2 separate regions of the Homo sapiens genome follow, and region 2 is linked to region 1. A link means that fine-mapping ties the variant in region 1 to the expression of a gene that starts in the linked region. Tissue or cell type: whole blood. Region 1 holds a variant in brackets; the other region holds the start of a gene. All regions are shown on one strand. Distances are between the middles of the regions.

What was found. PIP is the estimated chance that this variant, and not a neighbour inherited with it, causes the effect.
Region 2: OAZ2 starts here. The variant in region 1 is fine-mapped to the expression of OAZ2 in whole blood (INTERVAL, PIP 0.98).

Annotation. Positions count from the first base shown.
Region 1 is chr15:64,320,572-64,325,717 of GRCh38, forward strand. The region is part of intron 1 of CSNK1G1 (casein kinase 1 gamma 1); the gene reads right to left. Among named protein-coding and RNA genes, the nearest start is that of CSNK1G1, 33 kb to the right of the region's middle. The variant T/C (reference allele first, on the strand shown) is at 2,362.
Region 2 is chr15:64,700,331-64,705,476 of GRCh38, forward strand. It overlaps OAZ2 (ornithine decarboxylase antizyme 2), which reads right to left and starts at 2,951. Exons shown (of 5, transcript NM_002537.3): 1 at 2,699-2,951. The coding sequence starts at 2,718. LOC124903507 (a long non-coding RNA gene) reads left to right here and starts at 4,213. Exons shown (of 3, transcript XR_007064679.1): 1 at 4,213-4,302. RefSeq lists enhancers at 1-70, 71-908 and silencers at 2,537-2,756, 2,767-3,086.

The sequences.
Region 1 (5,146 bases):
GGGAGGCTGAGGCGGGAGAATCGCTTGAGCCCAGGAAGTGGAGGTTGCAGTGAGCTGAGATCGTGTCAATGTACTCCAGCCTGGGTGACAGAACAAGGCTCCATCACAAAAAAAAAAAAAAAAAAGAAAAAAGAAAAAAAAGAATACGGGTCCCATGCAATGTGGCCAGCTCTGAGTTTTCAGAAGTTGCTTAACACTGAAATTTTAATAAAATCTCCCAGTTTTTATATGTTCGCAATTAATTTTTTAAAATTTTTAAATACTGTCCACACCACCAGTTTGTAACCTCTGGTCTCAAGTTCTTAAAGTGAAATATGGCTTTTTAAATCTTTAGCGTAAGTGATCTACATTGCCAAAAACAAGGGTGGGAATTCACAAAACACAAAGGAAAATATCCTGTTTAAGATTAAAAAGTATCTTTTTCACCCTACAATACAAATTCGTAATATAAAAGCAAAAGTATGAGATATTTATAATGCTCTCTATAGAGAAATTCAGAATAGTATGATTACTATTGGTAATAAGTTTAATTCATTTCTGTTTCTTATTCAAGAGAAAAATTCCCATTTTTCAATTTCAAATGCAAAAAATAACAATTTAATGTATTATTTAAGGAAATGAGCATCACACAAAATAACAGCTTATTACCCACTGAAATAAAAAAAAGCATTTTTTTTCTTTTTTTCCTTTTTTTTTTTTTTGGAGATAGGGACTTGCTCTGTTGCCCAGGCTGGAGTGCAGCAGTGCAGTCATGGCTCACTGGAGCTTCAACCTCCTGGGCTCAAGCAATCCTCCCACCTCAGCTTTCCCCGCAGATGGGACCACAGACACATACCACCATGCCCAGCTAATTTTTCTATTTTTTGGTGGGGGAAGAGACTAGGTTGTGCTATGTTTGCCCAGGCTGGTTTCAAACTCTTGGATTCAAGCGATCCTCCTGCTTCAACCTCCCAAAGGGCTGGGATTACAGGCACCAGCCATCGCACCCAGCCTAATTAAAGCATTTCTATGACAGTTTTATAATATAAAGAGAAATGGCCATAATATATCATGCACAAAATTACTAAAGATCTATGGGCTATTGGCTAATATGAAGACAGCTGCTTCTGATATTGTACTCAATTAAGGAAGCCATGAACACGGTAAATTTAAAAGTGTCTGGTCAAACACCTAACACCAGTATTAATAAAGTTTTCTAATTATGAAATGACCATATTGTTAAATTTTCCCTGAGTAAGACTTTCCTCCACCTACTGAAAGTGGAGAAGAATGGAGGGAGTTACAGTTATGATTTGGGACATAAAGCCTGAATTATTTTTCTATAGTTCCCGCTAAGCTACTGATAAACCACAGAAGGCAGTAACAAACCTCACAAGAGTGCCTGGTAGGCTCTAATTGGATCTTATCTAACATTTTACTGTATTTTTTCTTTTTTCTTAACTAAATTACTCTAAGTAGTAAATATCTTTTGCCTTCTGAAATCAATATTCTGTAATATGTAATATCTTCCTCTCATGGAGCATAAGTAGTAAATATCTTTTGCCTTCTGAAATCAATATTCTGTAATATGTAATATCTTCCTCTCATGGAGCATAAAGTCTTATTGTAACTTGAATCCTCCCATATTCATTTCTCTTTCCTAGTTTTGTGCATGAAATACCCACAAAGCAATTTGGTTATTTCTCCTAAAGCTGTTCAACAGTTAAACCTTTTTCCTTTGAAGCACATACTATACTCTCAATTGGTACATGCAAGCAAAACAAGTTTTCTTTTCTCTCTCTTTTTTTTTTAAATACAGACACGGTCTTACTACATTGCCCAAGGTCTTACTACATTGCCCAGGCTGGTCTCGAACTCCTGGGCTCAAGCAATCCTCCCGCCTTGACTTCCCAAAGTGCTGGTATTACCAGCATGAGCCGCCATGTCTGGCCCAAAGCAAGTTTTTAATCTCATTTAGTACAGGCCAGGCATGGTGGCTCATGCCTGTAATCCCAGCACTTTGGGAGGCCAAGATGGGTTGATCCCTTGAGCCCAGTAATTCAAGACCAGCCTGGGCAACATGGTGAAACCCTGTCTCTAGCAAAAAAATAAATTAATTAAACAATACAAAAATTAGCCAGACATGGTAGTGCGCATCTGTAGTCCCAGCTACTCAGGAGGCTGAAGTGGGATGATCACTTAAGTCCAGGAGGCAGAGCCTGGAGTGAGCACTACATTCCAGCCTGGGTGACAGAGGAGATCCTATCTCAAAAACTAAATAAGTAAGTAAAATAAAGTCAGTTATTATAAAATTTAAGATAGAGTTCACTTTAATCATAACATTGTAAAATGCACTGCACTTTTACATTCCTCGTTTTGTTT[T/C]TGGGTTGTTTTTTTTTTTCCTCGCTCTGTTGCCCAGGCTGGAGTGCAGTGGCACAATCATCTCACTGTAGCTTCAACCTCCTGGGCTCAAGCAATCCTCATGTCTCAGCCCCCTGAGTACCTAGGACTACAGGCTCACGCCACTATGCTGGGCTAATTTTTCCTTTTTTCTTTTTAAAAAATGGAGTCTTAGTATGTTGCCCAGGCTGGTCTTGAACTCCTGGCCTCAAGTGATCCTCCTGCCTTGGCCTCGCAAAGTGCTAGGATTACAAGTGTAAGCTAGCACAACCAGCCTCCTCTTGCTTTTGTGTGGTATTTACTGGCAACCTGAAAAGCTGTGGTTTAAAATCTGCTATGACATTGAATATAATTACTAGCTTACTTTTATTTAACTTTTGTCCAGTCTCAAAAAATTATTTAATTACTGACTATACTTTTTTTTTTTTCTTTGAGACAGAGTTTCACTTTTGTTGCCCAGACTGGAGTGCAATGGCGCAATCTCGGCTCACTGCAACCTCTGCCTCCTGGGTACAAGCGATTCTCCTGCCTCAGCCTCCCTAGTAGCTGCGATTACAGGCATGTGCCACCACGCCCAGCTAATTTTGTATTTTTAGTAGACATGGGGTTTCTCCATGTTGGTCAGGCTGGTCTCAAACTCCTGACCTCAGGTGATCCACCCGCCTCGGCCTCCCAAAGTGCTGGGATTACAGGTATGAACCACTGTGCCTGGCCAATTACTGACTATACTTAAAACATATAAACAATTTCACCCATCCAATTAAAATCTTTAAAGTTATATTTACTCCCCTCCTTCCTTCAAAACGCCATTATCCCCTTATCTTCTCACTCTATAGCTATGTGGAAATGCAAAAGGAATACTAGTGTTCTTAAAACAAAGCCTCTCTTTTCCCAGCTGATTTTACTGTTCTATAAAAATAGTTTGCTTTAAGACATGTCACATTGTAGAACAGTAACAACTACACCATCTAAACCTTATTGGGCCTTTATGCACCAGGTACACTTTAAATGATTTAAATATATTAATTCATTAAATCCTTCCACTACCTTATGGATAGTAATACTGTTACTATAATTCTCACTTCACAGATGAGGAAACCAAGTAAGATGCGTAACAAAACTAGAAAGCAGTAGAGGCTTTGACACTTTTGTCAGGTAGATACTTGACATCCTGACTCAAAAGCCCCTGACTTACACTACTATGTATTTATAAACACTACACTGATTACCCAAACCTATAAATACCGAAGCATATGATTGTCCTGTGCGATGGTTAATACTGAGTGTCAACTTGATTGGACTGAAGGATGCAAAGTAATGTTCCTGGGTGTTTCTGTGAGGGTATTGCCAAAGAAGATTAAGATTTGAGTCAGTGGCCTGGGAGAGGCAGACCCACCCTTAATCTGGGTGGTACCATCTAATCAGCTGCCAAAATGGCTAGAATAAAGCAGGCAGAAGAAGACAAAAGAGCAGCCTTGCTGAGTCTTCCAGTTTTCATCTATCTCCCATGCTGGATGCTTCCTACCCTCGAAGAACATCTGACTTCAAGTTCTTCAGCTTTTGGTCTCTTGGACTTACACCAGTGGTTTGCCAGAGGCTCTCAGGCCTTCGGCCACAGACTGGAGGCTGCACTGTCTGCTTCCCTACTTTTGAGGTTTTGGGACTCAGACTGGCTTCCCTGCTCCTCAGTTTGCAGATGGCCTATGGTGAGTCTTCACCTTGTGACTGTGTGAGTCAATTCGGCTTAATGAACTCCCCTTCATATATACATATATTCTATTAGTTCTGTCCTTCTAGAGAACCCTGACTAATACACCCTAGGACCACATATTCTTGTTGCCTAATTATAAAGGAACTCCATGAAATTTCTTTAATGGTTCTTAAGAGTCACTGCTGACTGTGCAACAAATGCACATGGTATTATAAGAAAATTTATTCTTTTAGGGAATAAGTACATTTTCATGTAAAATATTCAAGTTTTGAATACATCAATAGAATCCTACTAAATTAGCTTGTATTGTACAGTGAAATTATTACCATACAGTCTGATACTCTGTAATATGTGTTAGCAGGGTAACTATTGAACATGTAAAAAGCATCTGAATCATGAGAACTTGATTAATACAGGATTTAATAAAGAATTCTTTTGTTGTTTTCAGTATTTGTGACATCTGGGTAGTGGACACTTTTTCCTATAATCATCCCCTACAGCTACACAGTAATAGAAGTATATTTTAAGGAGAATGGAGCAACACAATTTCAAGTGGTTGTTAGTGATATTTTACCTTCACTGGGATATAGCTACAGTTACATTATCTCACTCATAAGCAGCATAGCAGGCATCCGTTTGAATTCTACAAATGTATATGCTCAGCTTTCAGACTCATCTTTCATTATTTTCAGTAAAAACAACTCCAAATTCTATTAATTGGAGAAGGTATACAGGTGGTGAGCTTGCCTAAAAGACAATGCACATATCCTGATAGCTGTTAGTACTGCCTTATTCTCATATTATAATGGCTTACTTACTTCATACCAAGAGAAACTCATAGCCCCAGAATCACAAAAAATTATATAATCATTTCTATAACAAATTTACTCAAATAGCAGAGAAGTAGATTCACAACTACTTTAAATAAAGGTTTTAAAAGCTCCATAATTATAACTACCTTTAACTATTATAACTTTAGGCCTTAAATCACATCTCTAAATTTTTACAGTAATAAGACAAGCATCTTTTAAGTGCCTACTGCATACCAGGCACTAT
Region 2 (5,146 bases), 380 kb after region 1:
TTGCTCAACTCTCAGGGCTCAGCCTACAAAAGACTCGGCATTTCGACCAGCTCAGTCCAGAGGACTCCAGAGAATGACTGCTGAGACCACCCCACTTTCCAACCCCCACTACAGACACACAAAAAGAACAGAAAAAAAAGTCTATCTCACATACCCCTTGAGTGGGTTTTGTTGTAGGTCTCTCTGCTCCCCTCCACCCCTGTGCTTCATCCTGCCCTCTCTCATACCTGCCATCTATCCTCAGCACACACGGCGCCTTTGCCACAAGTAACACCTTTGCATCCAGCACTCTCCGTGTCTATATCCGCCTCCACCTCCTCAGCTCCCGAGGGGCTGGGTTACAGAAGATGGAGTGAAAGGGGGGAATGCAGAGGGGATGGACATGGAGAGTCTTGGAAAAGGAAACTCTAACAGCTGATGGGTTGTAGGGTAAAGAGAACATGGGAGGCAGGGATAACAGGTCAAATAAGACCATAACAAATTATCAAACGGCGAGTGAATTTTCTTCCTGCATGCAAAGAAGAAATGAGGGGGAGGGCACCAGTTAAGAGTCTGAGACTTGGGGGAAGAAAATGGCCAATGGCTGAGAACTGAGTACAGACAGGAACTTCAGAAGCTGTTGCAGGTATTGTATCTTGGGCACTTCTGGACAGCACCTGAGAGAGAAAGACTAAGAAATCCCTGAAGAAATTGAGCCCAGGAGGCAGAGGTTGCAGTGAGCCCAGATCGCACCACTGCACTCCAGCCTGCGCCACAGAGTGAGACCCTGTCTCAAAAAAAAAAAAAAAAAAAAATATTCCTCGAAGAAAATTAGGCCTTTGTCAGTAGAAAAGGGCTGACACCCACTACAGGAATAGGATGGGAAAAGCTGCAGGAAGGAAGCTGTGGTTTTTAACCCCAGCTTTGCATTATAAAGAATTACCTGGGGAGCTTTAAAACTATATGCTAATAATCAGGACACTCTAGGCCAATGAGACCAATCTTTGAAGGTAAGGCCCAAGTGACTGATTTCTCAAATGTGAAGCCAGGGTAAGAAACACTGAAATACAAGAAAAGCTGAAAACCCAGTTGGAATATTTAAGGCTGGTGCTGTTAACAAGTGGGAAAGGAAAGTTGAGAGACTATTTCAGTAAGAAGAGTGCCCAAGTTTGAGAGGAATCCTGAGTGGCAGTTAGAGGGCTCTATGCAAAGAAAAGCAATAAAGAAGGCAATGCATTTGAGAGGAACTAGTCTAATTCTGAATAGAACATGGCCCAATTTAAGGAAGATTTACAGGGAATGGATCTGCTTGCAAAATAATGAGGCCCAAGTGAGAGGCAGAGGCCATAAGGCCAAATCTGGGGACAAAAGGTCTGGTGTGGGGAACTAATGAGCTTCAGACACGGTTTGGACAGGACAGCAACAAGTTTGGGGAAAAAATGAGGAAGAGAATTAGGTCCAAATTGTAAATGAAAGCCATTCTGATGTATAAGGAGCAACTAGGATTAAAAATTCCGGGGAATTAGGAAATTGTGGAACAGTTTCAGAGAACAGAGGCAGAAATATGGGATATATTAAAATTTGAGGGAGAGATAGGTGAGAAGGGTTGTCTTGGAGAAAGAGAGGCATGTAGAGAAAGGAAAATTGAGGAACTATCTGCAGGGGGAAGGATATACCATGCAAGTTTGGAAAACCAGGGTGCTCGGTCTGAGAAAGATGTGCAGCCTTTCTCTAATTAATGGGGGAAGACTAGGGTCGGGTTTTGAGGGAGGAAATTGCAAAGATCTAGTGTCCAGAATATAGAGCTTGGTTTGAAGGCACTGGAGGTACAGGGGGAAGGTTCACTGGAAGCGAGATGGCTGGGTCCTGTGATCTAATGATCCAAAGACGGGATTCAGTTAAGAGGGGAAGGAGAAGGATGAGTTCCAGCTGAGAAAAGATGTTTAGAGGGTAAGAATGTTTCCAAGAGTGTTGGGGGTATACCATTGGGGCAACAGGATGGAGCACAAGAATCAAACCTGGTGTTTGATAAATAAAAGGAATGGCGCTGGGAGACTGGGAAAATGGGGCCTAACTGGGAGAGGGGTGTGGAGAGGGGAAGGTGGGGGAAAGATGAAGCTGAAGTATGGGACCAGGAGGAAGAGGCTGGACATCTGTGTAAGGACTGCTAGGCCTGAAGAGAATGGGGGGAGGGTGATGAGTGGGGGTAAACTGAGAACTGAAGGATGGAGGTTGACTTTGCGGGGGGCAGTGATATGAGAAGAGTCTGGGTGGGGGGTGCAGTTTTCATCAGGGAGGGAATTCAAAGGGAAGGGTGAAGTGACTTATAAGGGGAGTAAGAAAGATTTGAGGAAGACAGGAAACAATTTGGGGAATCTGGATGCCGGGGAAAGCCCAGTTTGGGGAATGGGGCACAATTCGGTGGGGCTGAAAGAAAAAAGGGGACTTGCTTGGAAGGTTGGGTTCCGGCTTTTGGGGGCTTTAGGGGAGGAGAAGGCCCGGATGAGGGGGATGGGCCCGGCTGAAGAGGGGGCTAAAGGACAGAAGAAGGCCCAGTTGCAGGGCTGAGGACCGGACTAGGGTGGCTGAAGTGGTGAACGGACCTGGCTGGGGGCGGATGGCCCCGCTGCGGGGGGCGGGGGCCGGCTAGGGGTACGTGAGAGGCCCTCTGGAGCAGATGAGGGAGGATGGGGGCGGGGAGCCTGGGCCGGGCCGTTACCTGTCCTGGGTGTTTATCATCCTCGGCGGCTCTGCTCAGGGTGGGAGGAGGCGGCGCAGGGAGTGGATAGATGGATGAGTGGGTGGGTGTGGGGTCACGCGCGCGGGGTCGATCTCTGCGGGCTAAGTCCCTGTCAGGCCGCGGGCCGAGCGCCTCCTTTTGCCTCAGCGAGCGCCTGCCTCCAACTGACCCTCCCCGGCCGCCACCGCCGCCGCCGCCGCCGCCGCCCCGCCCCCGAGTGCCTCATCTGCATAGCCCCACCCCAGCGCCGCGCGGTGTCCTGGGAAACTGGGGCCCACAACAAAGGGCAAAGCACCGCCCCGCCTCCGCGCAGGCGCACCACGGACCGATCGTGGGGGTAGGGCTAGGGGGTCCGAACGAAGGGCAGGCTGTGCAGGAGGCCATGACCAAGGCGGTGGGTCTGCCCGCAGCTGCGGCAGCGCGGCCCAGAAGATGCGTTGTGTTTCCGGTAGTTTTCTGTGAGGATTGACTCAACCTGGTCCTCATCCCTATTCCTTGTTGGCGTGGGGCCGAACAGGGCTGTGCCATTTGGGAGGATATTAAAACAAAATCAGAAATCTTAAGAGAACTACACACATATTAGCACCATTCCTAGTCTGAGTCCAGGCCCACAGATCTGTTATCTCAGCTCATAATGCAGATCAATAACCTCAGCTGTCAGGGTAGATCAACAATCTCAGCATCTCGCACACATCTCATGTCAATCGTCAAGGCTGCTCCAAGCACTGGCTTAGGTCATCTGAAGCCAGAACTCTGTAGATCATGAGCACAGTCACAACAAGACAGTCGTGGAAAGCGTCGTCACTAACTTGTTCACGGTCACTTCAGATCACAATCAGTGCAAGTTACTTCAATCGATCATGCAAGGTTACTAGTTCAGTCACCTCCATTCATTATCCCTACTGGTCCTTATGACAGATTAGTGCCTGAAGGCCACAGTCACCGGTGCGCAGACCCCTCAGATCACAGTCCTTGTAGGTTACAATCACAGACACTTCAACACAATCATCAAAAGCCCCGACTCTGTTCACAGTCAACCCAGATTGCAATCAAGAGAGGTCACATTATCTCAGATCACAGTGGGTCACTCTGTCACCTCAGATTACATCCATTCAGTTATTCAACAAATAATTATTTTATTTATTTACTTATTTTTGAGATGGAGTCTCTCTCTGTGGCCCAGGCTGGAGTGCAGTGGCACAATCTCAGCTCACTGCAACCTCCACCTCCCGGGTTCAAGCGATTCTCCTGCCTCAGCCTCCTGAGTAGCTGGGATTACAGACATGTACCACCATGCCCGGCTAATTTTTGTATTTTTAGTAGAGACGAGGTTTCACCATGTTGCCCAAGCTGGTCTTGAACTCCTGACTTCAGGTGATCCACCTGCCTCGGCCTCCAAAAGTACTGGGATTACAGGCATGAGCCACCGCACCCGGCCAACAAATAATTATTGAATAGCTACTTACTGTATGCTCCAGGCATGTGCTAGAGTCCAAGAATACGCCATAATCAACCAGGCAAGGTTCCTGCCTTGGATGTCACAATCCGGTCAAGGGGAGAGACACAGGTCATCACAATACCAGGTAAGTAAGTGCTCAATCTGAGGAATGCCACAGAGAAAGTAATTTAGGGAATTAGGGACAGCTTTGCAGAAAGAGTGATAACTCAGAGAAAGGGTGACACTCCAGATCGGCGGTCACTATGACTTTCAGTTCACAAACATCTCACATTGGAGTCATCTCAGGATATGGTTACTCTCCTTCACAAACAGCATGCTTTTGGGTTTTGGATGATGGGGATGGAGGCACAGAAGGAAGGCTGGAGCTACCAAGCTAAGGCTTTTTCAACACAAATTAAAGTGGTAAATGATACCGAAACTGCCCGGATTATCACTAGATATTCAGGCAAGGCTGGTCTCATACTCTGGTTCACTTTAAGATCCTCCACTTTGTCCCTCAGCTATCCCTACCTACTCCTCCAGGTTCAAGTCAGGTATGTTCTTACATTAGTACTTAGCAAAATTGGACATTTAAACCCAGCCCTGATCTACCCCATCGCATAGTCCCAGAGACCTGGGCAATCCTCCTGGACCCTCAGAGGGAGCTGGAATGTCTCACTTCTGCCAGCCCATTCCTGGCCAAGTAACCCTTTAACCTGAAGGACAGTTTTTGACCCATGAATCAACAAATATTGAGAACTCACTATGTCAATAATAGCGACCATTTATTGAGCATCATGGGTAAAGTACTAAATTTTAGAACAGCTCTCCACCCTCGTTTTAAGGATGAAGAGAATTAAACCTCAGAGAGATTTATTCTGTCATCCAATATTTATTGAGGGTCTGTCTATACCAGACATGTTAACATGCTAGCTTTAATTCAAAGCGATTAAGTGGTATAGTTAGAATTTGGATCCCAAGTTGCCTGA